Linked DNA regions of Homo sapiens: region 2 is linked to region 1. The links come from fine-mapping of genetic effects on gene expression. Tissue or cell type: whole blood. Region 1 holds a variant in brackets; the other region holds the start of a gene. All regions are shown on one strand. Distances are between the middles of the regions.

The links. PIP is the estimated chance that this variant, and not a neighbour inherited with it, causes the effect.
Region 2: HIF1AN starts here. The variant in region 1 is fine-mapped to the expression of HIF1AN in whole blood (TOPMed, PIP 0.95).

The regions. Positions count from the first base shown.
Region 1 is chr10:100,590,125-100,592,888 of GRCh38, forward strand. No RefSeq gene overlaps it. Among named protein-coding and RNA genes, the nearest start is that of HIF1AN, 56 kb to the left of the region's middle. The variant C/T (reference allele first, on the strand shown) is at 1,471.
Region 2 is chr10:100,534,530-100,537,161 of GRCh38, forward strand. HIF1AN (hypoxia inducible factor 1 subunit alpha inhibitor) reads left to right here and starts at 1,414. Exons shown (of 8, transcript NM_017902.3): 1 at 1,414-1,606; 2 at 1,882-2,132. The coding sequence starts at 1,430. RefSeq lists enhancers at 1,174-1,263, 1,334-1,393.

The sequences.
Region 1 (2,764 bases):
AATACACATTTTTTCCAAGTGCCCATAGGACATATGCCAAGATAGAGCATATGCTGAGCCATTAAACAAACTCAGCAAATTTAAAAGAATTGAAATCATATAGAGTGTGTTCTTTGACCACAAATGGAATTTTTAAAAAATTGAATTGATAATAGAAAGATTGCAAGAAAATCTTCAAACACTTGGAAACAAAACAACACACTTGTAAATAATCCATGGGTCAAAGAGGTAGTCACAAAGATACACCAAACTGAACAAAAATGATAATACAACATCTTAAAATTTGTGAGTCATAGCTAAAGCAGTGGTGACAGGAAAATTTATAGCACCAAATTTATGCATTAGAAAAGAAGAAAATTTCAAATCAACCATCTAAGCTTCTACTTCATGAATCTAGAAAAAGAAGAGCAAAGGAAATCCAAAGCAAGTGGAGGAAGGAAACAATAAAGAAAAGAGCAAAAGCCAACAAAACTAGAAATGTGAAAATGATAGAGAAAATCAGTGAAACAAAGAGCTAGTTCTTTGGAAGATCAATAAAACTAATAATCCTCTAGCAAGACTGACAAAAAATAAAGAATGAAGACACAAATTACCCATATCGAGAATAAAACAAGAGATATCACTACAGACCCTGCAGACATCAAATGGATAATGGAATACTATGAAAAACTACACATATAAATATTGACAATTTAGATGAACTGGACAAATTTCTTTAAAAATACAAACTACCCCAACTCCCCCAACAGGAAATAGATAATTTGAATAGCCCTCTATTAAGGAAATTGAATTCATAATTTAAAAACTCCCCAAAAAGGAAATCTTCAGGCCTATATGGTTTTACTGGAGAGTTCTAACAAATGTTTAAAGAAGAAGGAACAACATTATGTAATCTCTTCCAGAAAATAGAAGAAGAGGGAACACTTTCCAATTAATTTTATGAAACTAATATTACCCATCATCAAAGATGGTATGAAAAAAAGAAAAAAAAGAAAATTACAGACCAATATTCTTCATGAAAATAAATGTAGAAACACTCAAGAAAATACTAGCAAATAGAACCCAGCAATATATAATAAAAATTAGATACCATGAGTAGTTGGAGTTTATTCCAAGGATGAAAGGCTGATCCAATATTCAAAAATCAACTAATGTACTTTACCCTATTAACAGACTAAAGAAGAAGAATCACATAATCATATCAGTTGATGCAGAAAAAGCATTTGACAAAATCAAATTGGAATATCTAAACCGGTGCCATAATACAAGAAAAGGAAATAAAAAGCATACAGATCAGGCCAGGCACAGTGGCTCACACCTGTAATTTCAGTACTTGGGGAGGCCGAGGCGAGTAGATTACTTGAGGCCAGGAATTCAAGACCAACCTGGCCAACATGGCAAAACACTGTCTCTACCAAAAATACAAAAATTAGCCAGGCGTGATGGCAAATGTCTCTAGTCCTAGCTACT[C/T]GGGAGACAGGCACGAGAATCGCTTGAACTTGGGAGGTGGATGTTGCAGTGGGCTGAGAACATGTCACTGGACTCCAGCCTGGCAAGATTCTGTTAAAAAAAAAAAAGCATACAGATCAGAAAAGAAGACATTCTTTTCTGCTGAGAAAATCCAAAGGAATCTACAAAAAAAGTTCTAGAACTAAAAAGTGAGTTCAGCAAGGTTGAAGAATACAAGATAAATATGCAAAAACATCGATTGTATTTCTACATACTAGCAATGAACAGATGGACACTGAAATTAAAAATGAAACACTATTTACAGTCACTCAAAAGTAAAATAAAATACTCAGATGTAAATACAACAAAACATGCAGAACTTGTGTACTGAAAACTGCAAAATGCTGATGAAATAAATAAAAGAAGATCCAATAAATAAATGAAGAGACATACCATATTTACAGATTGGAGGACTTAGCCAAGTGTGGTGGCTCACCCCTGTAATCTCAGCACTTTGGGAATCTGAGGCAGGCAGATCGCTTTAGTCCTGGAGTTGGAGACCAGCTTGGGCAACATGGCGAAACTCCATCTCTACAAAAAATACAAAAAAATTAGTCAGGCATGGTGATGCACACCTGCAGTCATAGCTACTCAGGAGGCTGAAGTGGAAAGATCATCTCTCCACAGCCCAAGAGTTCCAGGCTGCAGTGAGCCATGATCATGCCACTGCACTCCAGCCTGGGTGACAGAGTGAGACGCTGTCTCAAAAAAAAAAAAAAAAAAAAAAAAAAAATTGGAAGACTCAATACAATAAAGATGTTGATTCTTCCCAAGTTGATATACAGGTCTAACAAAATTCCTGTGAAAATCACAGCAAGATGTTTTGCAAATATAGATAAGATTATCCTAAAATTTATCTGTTAAAGGCAAAGGAGCTAAAATAGCTAAAAACAATTTTGAAAAAGAAGGATAAAGCTATAGTAACCAAGAGATTGGTAGAGGTATATACACATAGATTAATGAAACAGAATAGAGAATCCAGAAATACAGCCACACAAATATGCCCAGCTGATTTTTGGCAAAAGTACAAAAATAACTCAATGGAAGAAAGATGGTCTTTTCAACAAATGGCTCTGGAGCAAGTGGATATCTGTAGCTACCCCCTGCCCCCACCCCCACCAAAAAAAGGAAAAAAACCTCAACCTAAGGTCTCACACCTTATTCACAGTTTAACTTGAAATGAATCACAGGCTGGACATGGTGGCTCACGCCTGTAATCCCGACACTGTGTGAGGGCAAGGTGGGCAGATCATGA
Region 2 (2,632 bases), 56 kb before region 1:
CCCTGCAGCCTCAAACACTTCCACAGAGGTAGCCCTATTATCGGTTTGGTGTAGCATGGTTACTATGTAGCATAATTACATAGTTAAGCCAGTGCATTCATTTCTATTACTGCATAACAAATTACTGTAAATTTAGCAGCCCAAAACACCAATTTATTTTCTCACATATTCCATGAGTCCAGGTACTGGTTGGCTGAGTCCTCAGCTCAGGGTCTTATCAGGCTGAAATCAAGGTGTTGGCTGGGTTAGCGATCTCATCTGAGGCTCCGTGTGTGTCCTTTCCCAAGTTCAGTGGTTGTTGCCAGAATTCAGTTACTTGCATTTGTAGGATTAAGGTGCCCACTTTCTTGTTGGCTGTCACCCAGGAGCCTTTCTCAGCTCCTAGAGTCCACCTGCCATTTCCTGCCATATGGCAGTTTGCTCCTTCAAGGTGAACAGGACAGCTGTGCTGTGGCTTCAAATCTCTTAGATTCTGTCTCTGACCTCTAGCCCTGATTTAAAGGGCTAGAGTGATAAGATGAAGCCCACCAGGATAAATCACCTCTTTTTGACTGCCTTAAAGTTAATTGATTAGGGACTTTAATTACATCCTTGTCATATAAGCTAACCTAATTACAGGAGTGATGCTCTATCATATTCACAGTCGTGTTTTCTTTTAAGGGGAGAAATGTATACAGGATGTGTACACCGTAGGGTACAAATCTTGGGATACATCTTAGAATTGGGCCTCTCACAGCCAGCCATAAGAACTGTCCAAGTAAGCAATAGAGGTATTAATATGGCCTTTTATAATCAGTATAGATTGTTTGAAAATGTGAGATGTCCATGGTTGGCCTCTAATAACATTCGATTCACGGCAAACATATATTCAAGTAGGAGACATGGTGATATAGGCAGAAAAATCAAATGATGCTAAACAAAAGAAAACTGTCTTTGATTTTGAAAGAATTCAACTTGCTGTATATCTTTTGCCTAAGCCTTCAGTCAGCCTTTGCTCTACATCTACCAATGTGATCACTGCTTTTCCTTCTGACTTCTTTAGGTGGGTCAAGAGTTTGCTTTTCTCCCCATTCATGAGTGTAAAGTTTAATGCCTAACTGAACTTGCTTCCTTCTTTGACTCTTGTGTAGACTCGGGCACATGGGGCAACTTTTTTTGTGTTTTGCTCTACCAGGTCGTCCCTATTCCGTGGGACTAGTGTCTAGCCCCATTTCTTCAGCAGTGGAGCCTAGGATGTAGAGCTGCATACTACCATTAGGAGGCGCACCCTCAGGCCTCGGCTCCGCGTTCTTTATGTCTCTGGACCGCTCTCTCTCGCAGCTCATCTCTATGGTTTCCGTTGGGTGTGTGGTTTTTTTGTTTTTTTTTTTTTGGGGTCCGGAATAGGCGGAGCTTCCGGTTCCGGTGGGGGCCGTCCCTGGCGGCGGAGATGGCGGCGACAGCGGCGGAGGCTGTGGCCTCTGGCTCTGGAGAGCCCCGGGAGGAGGCTGGAGCCCTCGGCCCCGCCTGGGATGAATCCCAGTTGCGCAGTTATAGCTTCCCGACTAGGCCCATTCCGCGTCTGAGTCAGAGCGACCCCCGGGCAGAGGAGCTTATTGAGAATGAGGTGGGGGGCGGGGCCGCGTCTAAAGGGAGAGGAGGAAGGTACCCGGTTGAGAGGTCAGAGGTGAATGGTGAAAGAGATGGGAGACTGGCAGGGCTCTAGACTAGGGCCTATGGGAAGATGGAGAGAAAGGCGAGGAGATACGGAACTTAGGGGTTCGTGCTGATTAACAGGAGAAATTATTCTGAAGTTGAGAAGTAGTTGGGATCATGGAGGCCAACCCACCGGCTCCTTGGCATTACTTCATTTGGTGTTTTTCACCTGTTGTTTTCATTTAGGAGCCTGTGGTGCTGACCGACACAAATCTTGTGTATCCTGCCCTGAAATGGGACCTTGAATACCTGCAAGAGAATATTGGCAATGGAGACTTCTCTGTGTACAGTGCCAGCACCCACAAGTTCTTGTACTATGATGAGAAGAAGATGGCCAATTTCCAGAACTTTAAGCCGAGGTCCAACAGGGAAGAAATGAAATTTCATGAGTTCGTTGAGAAACTGCAGGATATACAGCAGCGAGGAGGGGAAGAGAGGTAAATTCCGAAAGCTTAATTTTCTGTTGGATTTAGGACACTCATTTTTCTTTCCTATACTTGTTTGAAGGTGTGGCAGAATTGGGTCAATTAGAGATTGGCCTCTCCCATCTCTGGATTCCAGTTGAAGGAGTAGTCTGGTCTTCCAGCCTTTAAGGGGTTTGAGTTCTTAGTGGTTCTTGGTGCTACAGCCAGCTAGTTCTGTAGCTTGAGGGATGAGGGAATGATTAAACTTGAGCTATGAATCTCTGGGTTCCCATCTTCTTCCTCATAAAGAGTTAGTTGCCTAGAAGGGTCAGGCAGGTGAATGGAAGGAGTAATATCGTCTGTGTGAAATCAGTGATGAGGCTGAAGGCATAAGCCTTGTTCAAAGTGAGAAGCCAAGGCCGGCGGGGGTGGCTCATGCCTGTAATCCCAGCACTTTGGGAGGCCGAGGTGGGAGGATTGCTTGAGTCCAGGAGTTCAAGACCAGCCTGGGAAACGTGGTGAGAGCTAGTCTC